2 separate regions of the Homo sapiens genome follow, and region 1 is linked to region 2. The links come from fine-mapping of genetic effects on plasma protein levels. A gene starts in region 2. The other region holds a variant in brackets. All regions are shown on one strand. Distances are from middle to middle. Region 1 overlaps SLAMF7 (SLAM family member 7). Region 2 holds the start of SLAMF7 (SLAM family member 7).

Region 1 (5,383 bases), 15 kb after region 2:
TTCATCCTGATTTGTTTAGATTTTCCCAGTTTTAACACTGAAAGTCCTCTATCCTGAAAACCCTTCCATTACAAGGAAACTCGGCTGGTTGGTCACCCTAAGTGGGTCATCCAGGAGAAATGGTGGGCCAGTGGAAGTGGTGAGTGGTTGGAGAGGTGGCTTTGATTCTCTCCCAACTTGCTTTTAGAGTACATTGAAGAGAAGAAGAGAGTGGACATTTGTCGGGAAACTCCTAACATATGCCCCCATTCTGGAGAGAACACAGAGTACGACACAATCCCTCACACTAATGTGAGTCCCTTCTCATCTTTCCTGAGAACTGATCCTGTCTCTGAGGCTCTCCTTGTGAGGTTTTTCCATGGGTTTGGACAACATGGGAATGAAGAGGGGAGTGAGGATATATAGACTTAAAACTCAATGCACCTGTGCCTCCTCCAAGTCTTCATGGATTCTCTTCTGTGCAGAAGAAGCTGGTGGTCTCTGGAGCACCTGGTTCTGACTCACAATGCTCATGCTGTGGTCTGTGAAATCACCTGCTCCCCTCCACAGTTCATAACGGCCACACAAAAGGCCAGATTCCTTTTGCATAAGGCAGTGGGTAGAAGAGTGTGACTTTGACAGGATGTTTGAATCATGGTATCAGAAGACTTCTCTAGAGATCTCTCTCTCTCTCTCTCTCTCTCTCTCTCTCTCTCTCTCTCTCTCTATATATATATATATATATATATATATATATATATATATACACACACATATATATATAATATTTTTGAAATTCATTTTAACACAGTACAGTTTAAAAATAATGTAATGGCTTCCTGAAAAAAGTTATCAAAATTTATTATAATAGCAGTCACCAACAAGAGAACTTCCTACCTCCCTTCCCTGTTCCAGAACCCTCCTTTTCCTCTCACATCTCCTCCCATCTCTGCTTTCCCCTCTCTGGATTCTGAATGTCTCTCTGGCCTTGTCTATGTGATTCAGGAGGTGGGTGATGATTTCTTTTGTTTGTTGTTTGTTTTTAAAAGAGAACAATCCTAAAGGAAGATCCAGCAAATACGGTTTACTCCACTGTGGAAATACCGAAAAAGGTAAGAAGCTTTAGAGCTTAACTTCATCTTAATGGTTCCATTTCTTTTCCTGCTTCATGTTTAGGTCAAAATTTCTTGGACCCAGGTATCTCATACTCTCTAGAATTAAAAAGTACCCTAGTAGTTCCCCATTCCCTTTGCTTAGGGTTATACAAGAACATGGGGGATGGAAGAGAATTGTGTTTTAGGAATCGAATTGGGTAATCTGGAACAAATAGAGTAGGACAGAGGTTCTAGATCGGAATAATAAAGAAAATCAAAAGCCTTCTGACTGAAGTTGCAGACAAGGAAAAAGACCATGGCTTAGATTGTGCATGGAATGAAGAGAGGAATAGCTGAGAGGAGAGTCCAGCTTTCTCCTGAGACACCAGGAAACTGCAGGAGGGAGAGATCTCTACTTTTCTCCCATGGTCCAGCTATGTTACATCTGCTTTGCACCCTCCCCTCAGTTAAACTACTAATGCAGTAGCTTTAAGGCTTATTCCTTCACAGAGTACGGTTGGCAGCAGTAATGGTATCTTTCTGTCTCCTTTTTCTTCCTCTCCCAAACAGATCCAAAAAGATAAGAATCATTAAAGCAGTTTGCTTAGTAATAGAAAAGGTTGGTTTAGTGAATTATTACAACTGAACAAGGAAAGTTCAGTTCATTAAGCATTCAGCAAGATAAATATGCGTTAAACTTACAGAATAGTTTCTCTAAGCTAGGGGTGATTAAAATCAAACAGTGGGAGCCAGCATGCCAGCCGATTTGGGTTGGGTAACCTTGGAAATAAAGTTTCCTGGATGTCAGGGTCTCCATGGACGATCCAGAGCCCTGCTCACCTCCCTCACTCTACTTTCTTTTTGTCTGTCTTCAGATGGAAAATCCCCACTCACTGCTCACGATGCCAGACACACCAAGGCTATTTGCCTATGAGAATGTTATCTAGACAGCAGTGCACTCCCCTAAGTCTCTGCTCAAAAAAAAAACAATTCTCGGCCCAAAGAAAACAATCAGAAGAATTCACTGATTTGACTAGAAACATCAAGGAAGAATGAAGAACGTTGACTTTTTTCCAGGATAAATTATCTCTGATGCTTCTTTAGATTTAAGAGTTCATAATTCCATCCACTGCTGAGAAATCTCCTCAAACCCAGAAGGTTTAATCACTTCATCCCAAAAATGGGATTGTGAATGTCAGCAAACCATAAAAAAAGTGCTTAGAAGTATTCCTATAAAAATGTAAATGCAAGGTCACACATATTAATGACAGCCTGTTGTATTAATGATGGCTCCAGGTCAGTGTCTGGAGTTTCATTCCATCCCAGGGCTTGGATGTCAGGATTATACCAAGAGTCTTGCTACCAGGAGGGCAAGAAGACCAAAACAGACAGACAAGTCCAGCAGAAGCAGATGCACCTGACAAAAA[T/G]GGATGTATTAATTGGCTCTATAAACTATGTGCCCAGCACTATGCTGAGCTTACACTAATTGGTCAGACATGCTGTCTGCCCTCATGAAATTGGCTCCAAATGAATGAACTACTTTCATGAGCAGTTGTAGCAGGCCTGACCACAGATTCCCAGAGGGCCAGGTGTGGATCCACAGGACTTGAAGGTCAAAGTTCACAAAGATGAAGAATCAGGGTAGCTGACCATGTTTGGCAGATACTATAATGGAGACACAGAAGTGTGCATGGCCCAAGGACAAGGACCTCCAGCCAGGCTTCATTTATGCACTTGTGCTGCAAAAGAAAAGTCTAGGTTTTAAGGCTGTGCCAGAACCCATCCCAATAAAGAGACCGAGTCTGAAGTCACATTGTAAATCTAGTGTAGGAGACTTGGAGTCAGGCAGTGAGACTGGTGGGGCACGGGGGGCAGTGGGTACTTGTAAACCTTTAAAGATGGTTAATTCATTCAATAGATATTTATTAAGAACCTATGCGGCCCGGCATGGTGGCTCACACCTGTAATCCCAGCACTTTGGGAGGCCAAGGTGGGTGGGTCATCTGAGGTCAGGAGTTCAAGACCAGCCTGGCCAACATGGTGAAACCCCATCTCTACTAAAGATACAAAAATTTGCTGAGCGTGGTGGTGTGCACCTGTAATCCCAGCTACTCGAGAGGCCAAGGCATGAGAATCGCTTGAACCTGGGAGGTGGAGGTTGCAGTGAGCTGAGATGGCACCACTGCACTCCGGCCTAGGCAACGAGAGCAAAACTCCAATACAAACAAACAAACAAACACCTGTGCTAGGTCAGTCTGGCACGTAAGATGAACATCCCTACCAATACAGAGCTCACCATCTCTTATACTTAAGTGAAAAACATGGGGAAGGGGAAAGGGGAATGGCTGCTTTTGATATGTTCCCTGACACATATCTTGAATGGAGACCTCCCTACCAAGTGATGAAAGTGTTGAAAAACTTAATAACAAATGCTTGTTGGGCAAGAATGGGATTGAGGATTATCTTCTCTCAGAAAGGCATTGTGAAGGAATTGAGCCAGATCTCTCTCCCTACTGCAAAACCCTATTGTAGTAAAAAAGTCTTCTTTACTATCTTAATAAAACAGATATTGTGAGATTCACATACAAAAAGATGCATTATTTTGCTATTTGCAATAGTGAAATTCTGGAAACTGCCAAAGAAACTGACCACCACAGGTGAAGGTCTGTTCATACATAGACATTAAGAATTATGGGTTAGGCCGGGAGCAGTGGCTCACGCCTGTAATCCCAGCACTTTGGGAGGCCGAGGCAGGTGGATTACTTGAGGTCAGGAGTTCAAGAACAGCCTGGCCAACATGATGAAACCCCGTCTCTACTAAAAATACAAAAAATATTAGCCGGGCATGGTGGTGAGCCCCTGTAATCCCAGCTTCTTGGGAGGCAGAGGGAGGAGAATTGCTTGAACCCAGGACGGGGAGGTTGCAGTGAGCCAAGATCGCGCCACTGCACTCCAGCCTAGGCGACAGAGCAAGACTCCATCTCAAAAAAAGAATTATGGGTTATACTCAGCATCATGAAATATACCTGTGTAACCTACACATGTAGCTTCTGAATCAAAAATAAAATTAAAAATAACAAATTTTTAGCATGTGCCTGTGGTCCCAGCTACTTGGGAGGCTGAGGCAGGAGGATCTCTTGAACCCGGGAGGTGGAGGTTGCAGTGAGCCGAGATCGCACCACTGCACTCCAGCCTGGATGATAGAGTGAGATTCTGTCTCAAAAAAAAAAAAAAATTGTTTAAAAAAAACTATGGGTTGGCCAGGAGTGGTGGCTCATGTCGGTAATCCCAGCACTTTGGGAGGCTGAAGTAGGAGGATCACTTGACCTCAGGAGTTCAAGACCACCCTAGGCAACTTAGCAAAGCCCCATCTCTACAAAAAAATACAAAAATTAGCCAGGCATGGTGGTGCATGCCTGTAGTCCCAGCTACTCAGGAAGGAGCTGAAGAGGGAGGGTCGCTTGAGCCTGGTAGGTTGAGGCTGCAGTGAGCTATAATTGTGCTACTGCACTCCAGCCTGGGCAACAGAGTGAGACTCTGACTCACAAAACAACAACAACACAACAACTATGGGTTTTCAAGTTAGAAAATGTTATGACATCACAAATATAAAAAGTAGAATGCAAATTTAATGTGCTATATGATTACAGCTGTGTTTTAGAAAAAATCTCTACAGGGAAAAATTTGGAAGAAAAAACATCAAAATAGTAACACCAGTTGTTTAGGGAGGGTGAAAGCTTAGGTGGCTTGGTTTTTTCCTATTTTCATTCATTTTCTGAATATTCCTCAATGAGAAAGTATGTATTGCATAATAGAGTAGAGGAAATTTTAAATAGGTGCTCAGTGAGAAAAACGAGGCACTACTCACTACGTGGGGTTGAGGGGAAAGTCTGAGACCCTCATGGTAAGGGTGTGGGGGAGGATGGAAAGACCTCCTCGAGTGAGAATGGGTGGGGAGAAAGGAGAAACCCTCCACATAATGACAGAGGAGAAGATGACTTTCCCTCAGAGAGGGCTGCTGGAGGCTGAGGGGAGCTTCACAGTGTGTGAAGACAGAGGCGTGGAGAGGGGGATGCTGGGACTGAGGATGCATCTGTTCTGCCTTCCCCTCTCTCCTCAGAACCCATTCAGATGATAAATAATTAGGGTTAATCATACTTTGGGGTTTTTTAAACCAGTGACTGAAACAGGACCTAGGGAGACCAATAGATCTGGTCTCTGGACACTCAATAAATTCTGTCCCAAAGCTAGTTGCAGAAAGAAGCTTCCCCTCATGAGTTCAACCAGTAGGCAAAGGAAACCACCAGCTC
Region 2 (5,383 bases):
AAGGGAAATTTTAGAATTGAATAATACAATGACTGAAAGGTAAAACTAATTGAATGAGTTTAATGAGCTTAATAGCAAAATGGAGGCCAGGGCCAGTGGCTCATACTGGCAATCCCAGCACTTGGGGAGGCCAAGGTGGGCGGATCACCTGAGGTCAAGAGTACAAGACCAGCCTGGCCAACATGGCAAAACTCTGTCGCTACCAAAATATAAAAATTAGCCAGGTGTGGTGGCGGGTGCCAGTAATCCCAGCTACTTAGGAGGCTGAGGCAGGAGAATCGCTTGAGCCCAGGAGACAGAGGTTGCAGTGAGCTGAGATCGTGCACTCCAGCCTGGGCAACAGAGTGAGACTCTGTCTCAGAAAAAATAAAAAAATAAAAAATTGCAAAATGGAGATGAAAAAGGAAAGAATCAGTGTACTTGAAGATAAACAATAGAAAATACCCAATCTGAAAACAGAGTGAAAATAGGCCAAAAAAAAAAAAAAAAAAAAAAAAAAATGGAGCCTCAGAGCCCTGTGGGAGAAAAACAAAAGATTTATAACATTCATGTCATCAGAATTTTAGGAGAGAAGCGAGAATGTGAGGCTGAAAAAAAAGTATTCAAAAAATAATGAAATTTCCCCAAACTTAGCAAAAGGTAAAAACCTACAGATTCAAGAGACTCAATGAATCACAAATAAGAGAAACCCAAAGAAATTCACACCAAGACACATTATAATCACACTTCTGAAAACTAAAGACAAACAAAAAACTTTTAAAACAGCTAGAGAAAAATGACACATTACCTACAGGGAAAACAACTTAAATGACGGCTGATTTCTCACTGGAAACCATGGAGGGGAGGAGTGTCATGACACTTTTCAAGTGTTGAAAGAAAAAAAACTGTCAACCTAGAATTTTATACCCAGGAATGAGGGTTAAATCAAGACATTCTCAGGTGAAGGAAAACTAAGATAATTTGTTATCAGCAGGCTTATCATAAAAGAATTCCTAAAGAATATCTTGAAACAGAAAGAAATGATTAAAGAAGAAAACTTGAAGGCTGGGTGTGGTGGCTCATACCTGTAATCCCAGCACTTTGGGAGGCCAAAGTTGGTGGATCACCTGAGGTCAGGAGTTTGAGACTAGCCTGGCCAACATGGCGAAACCTGATCTCTACTAAAAGTACAAAAAGTAGGTGGGCATGGTGGCATGAGCCTGTAGTCCCAGCTACTCAGGAGGCTGAGGCAGGAGAATCGCTTGAACCCAGGAGGCGGAGATTGCAGTGAGCCAAGATCATGCCACTACACTCCAGCCTGTATGACAGAGCAAGACTTCGTCCAAAAAAAAATAAAAAGAAGGAAACTTGAAACATTAGAAATAAAGAAATAACAATGAAAAGAGTTAAAATATGGGTAAATGTAATGGATTGTCCTTCTCCTCTTGAGTGTTCTGAATTATGTTCAACAATTGAAGCAAAACTTATAATCTTACCGATATGGTTCTCAATGAATATAGACAATATATTTAAGACAAGTATAAAGATAGACTAATAAAGAAACCTAATATAGGTAAGTTTTCTATACCTAGTTCAACTGGTAAAATGTCAACACTGATAGGTAGATCAAAAGTTATGTATGTAAAATGCAATATGTACAGCAACCAGTAAAAAAACTCTTCAAAAAGATACATTATAGATAAATCAAAATGGAATTATAAAAAATATTCCAGTAACACACAGGATGGCCAGGAAAGTGAAACAGAGGAACAAAATAAACAAACAAAAGCCCAGAAGAACAAAGAGAAAATAATAACATGGCAAACTTAAGCTCTGATATATAAATAATTACATTATGTAAGTCAGTTAAATAGAATAGATAGCTCCAGAATATACCCACACAAGTATAAGTGCTGATTTTTGATAAAGATACAAAAGTAATTCAATGTAGGAAAGATCATCTTTTCCATCACATGGTAGTAGAACAATTGAACACCCACAGGCAGAAGAAAAAAAAACACGCACATTGTAATCATACTTCTGAAAACCAAAGGCAAACAAAAAACTTTTAAAACAGCTAGAGAAAAATGACACATTACCTATAGGGAAAACAATTTAAATGATGGCTGATTTCTCACTGGAAACCATGGAGGGGAGGAGTGTCATGACACTTTTCAAGTGTCGAAAGCAAAAAAAAACTGTCAACCATATTACCTGATATGGTTCTCAATGAATATAGACAATATATTTAGGTGAATCTCAACCTAAACTTCACACCTTACATTAAAACAGGATCATACATTTAAATGTAAAACATAAAACTATAAAACTTTCAGGAGAAAACCTTTGGACCCTAGTGTGGGTAGAAAAAAAACTGATAAGTTGAATTTCATCAAAATTAAAATTTTTGCTCTGCCAAAGACCCCGTTAAGAAGATGAAAAGACAGGCTACAGACCAAGAGAAAATATTTGTAAACCACATATCTGACAAATGACTCTTATACTTGGAACATATAAGGAATTGTCAAAGCTCAACAGTAAAAAAAATAAAGAATCTGATTATAAAATGGACAAAAGACATAAATAGACATTTCACCAAGGAGGATATGGATATATAGATGGCAAATAAGCACATGAAAAGATGTTCAACATTATTAGGCTTTAGGGAAATGCAAATTAAAGCCACAATGAGGTATCACTACAGCACCTATTAAAACAGCTAAAATATAAAATGGGAATATACCAAATGCTGATGAAGATGGGGAGCAAATAGATCTCTCATAGATTGCTGGTGGCAAGGTAAAATGCTCTATTCACTCTGAAAATAATTTAGCAATTACTCAATCTCACATGTCTGCGGCGTGACCCCTCCTGCTTCTTTAAATATCAGCTGGGGAAGAGGTCTGAGTAATACCTAAGAGGGAAGTGGCTTCATTTCAGTGGCTGACTTCCAGAGAGCAATATGGCTGGTTCCCCAACATGCCTCACCCTCATCTATATCCTTTGGCAGCTCACAGGTGAGTCCGGCCGGATTCTCTTCCACTCTCCTGTCTACCCCATCCTGAATAGTTCCAGGTTTCTTGTTCCACTCTGGGCCTCTGGCTCAACTCGGGAGGCTCTGTGTTCTCATCTAACATTTGCTTTTTATCAATCTCTGATCTCTGATTCTCAGGTCAGGAAGAGACTAGAGAGAGGGGGAAAAATGGCTCTGGGAACTGACTCCCCTGTTGACTGTCCCAGGGATGAAGGAGCTGAAAGAAGTGGTGCTGGGTATCAGAGACCATTTTTCTAATCCAGGTTCTGCCATGAGTTAGATAAGGAATGTTAAAGTTTTCCTGGGCCTCAGAAACTTTATCTTCTAGCCTTCTCTCCTTTTGAGGGCAACTTTAAGAACAAGATGATACTATACAGGTATGTATTTATTTACTTATAAATGTATTTATAAAATTGGTTATGCATAACAGTAATATAAATGGAAAGAATCACTTGAATTTTCTTTCCTTACTCAAGCAATGTAATCAGTCTCTACTTAGAGAACCAACTCATACCATAGGCACTTTATGTTTAATCCCATGGAGGACAGAGGACAGTTCTCCACCTGTCACTGGTATTCTAGTCTTTGAAGATTTTTCTATCCTAAGGGCTCTCAGAAAGGATCAGGAGCCCTATAAGTGAGAAATATCTCTTCTGTCATCAATCTCATGGAGTACTACCATGAGGTCCCCCTATAAGGACTTCACATAACTGCTTCATTATGTGTATCTGAGCCTGCCTGGAGTGATCTGCCCAAGACCACGCAGGCAGCTGGTGCCCCCAATATTTTCCCCTGCATCGCTAAGTGGTCAGCATCAGCAGACTCTTACCCACTTTGAATTCATCAGAAGTTTGTATTTTTGAGAGGTACCTGGGTCTAACCAGGTGGTTCTGGAATAGGCCCTCACTTTAAAAAAAAAAAACAAAAAAAAAACTCCCTGAACGGAAATGATGAGCAGAAATAGAACTTGAGGGAGATAAGGTGGAGGGGTTGGGGAAAATTATAGAGACTTTGAAAGCTACAGGTGTCCATCTGAAATCAGTCAGCGAAAGAGCACAAGTATGAAAAACTGCCATGCAGGTCCCCCTCTGCCCTCCTCCAGAGGCAGCCTGTGTAGTGTACCTCCTGAGGCTGAAAGGAGACAGAGATTGTCCTGGAACTTCCAGTGGGCAGGGCAGTGGAACAAATCCTGGCACTGGACAAGCGCATCCTTGGTTTGACTTAGTAGCTGTATTATTGTAGGCAAATTACTCTTCCCTTCTGAGCCTTGCTCTTCTCAGGTGTGTAACAGAGAATGAAATCTAAGTTGCAGAATTATTGTGACATTTTAAATGACATATCAAATGCAAAATAATTATTAAAATAATCACCATTTATTAAGTTACTACATCGCAGGTGTTTTTCATACCACCTCCTCATGAGTCTGTAAGACAGATATCATTATCCCTGTTTTACAGTTGAGGAAACTTAGGCTCAGCAGAGAGATCACGCTTCTTGGGCAAGATAACACAGCATTTATAAGGTAGCCAGAGATTGAGTTTAGAAAGCTAGAAAGCTAGTGCTCTTTTAATCATAACAAGCCGTCTATCACTGGACCTGGCACCAAAGAGATGCTCACTACATGTGCATTTGAGCTGAATCTTCCTCAGGGAGTACCAGTTGGGGTTTCTTCCCTCTCCAGGTACATAAATCTGAGGTAGAAACTGGAAAGGCCCGAGAAGAACGGGTAGCTCTGTTTCTGGGATATGGGTGTACCAACAGGGGGCCACCCTGGCTAAACTCAGAGGGTCCATGAAGCAGTTCTCATGGCCTCAGTATTCTCATCTGAAAAATGGGCACAGTAATCTGCCAATGATTTGATGATACAGTAGTGTCAAGGAGACAATCAATAAAAAGAAAACAAAAAAGTGGGTGAGGGGAATTGGGAGAGTGTTGAAAAGAACCAGAAGAAACAAGGAAGAGGGGGCAGGAGATGAGTGAGGAGCAGAGTGGTGAGCAACCTAAATGTGAATGTGGTCGGTTAGGGCTAGAGTGATGGGAAAGGTGTGTGGTGAAGCGGGAAACTTTCAAGCCTCTGTCTGTGGCTGCCTTGTGTGGCATTGAATTACACTGCTCTTTCGTGAGTACATTCGTTAAGGGGGACTTGAGTAAAGTGCAATAGATTTCAAACCACTTTGGGTTTTTTTTGCCTTTTTTTTTAAATCCATGGTTTCCTTTTATGGAATGAAATTTTACACAGAAAAAAACAAATAAATGACTCCAATGTATAGAGTTGAAGCCTAACGGAAGCAAGTCCCATAGCCTCCTATCCTACGCTCACCCCTTAAACCTCCTCCTGAGCTCCCAAGAAATACACTGAGGCACTGCCAC

The links. PIP is the chance, under the fine-mapping model, that this variant and not a neighbour inherited with it causes the effect. Sun 2018 read protein levels with aptamers (SomaScan).
Region 1: its variant is fine-mapped to the plasma level of the SLAMF7 protein (Sun 2018, PIP 0.95).

The regions. Positions count from the first base shown.
Region 1 is chr1:160,751,158-160,756,540 of GRCh38, forward strand. SLAMF7 (SLAM family member 7) reads left to right here. Exons shown (of 7, transcript NM_021181.5): 5 at 188-291; 6 at 1,029-1,091; 7 at 1,949-3,664. The coding sequence ends at 2,020. Among named protein-coding and RNA genes, the nearest start is that of SLAMF7, 15 kb to the left of the region's middle. RefSeq lists a silencer at 606-665 and an enhancer at 4,335-4,384. The variant T/G (reference allele first, on the strand shown) is at 2,501.
Region 2 is chr1:160,736,361-160,741,743 of GRCh38, forward strand. SLAMF7 (SLAM family member 7) reads left to right here and starts at 2,887. Exons shown (of 7, transcript NM_021181.5): 1 at 2,887-2,996. The coding sequence starts at 2,942. LOC124904440 (a long non-coding RNA gene) reads right to left here and starts at 2,799. Exons shown (of 2, transcript XR_007066687.1): 1 at 2,723-2,799.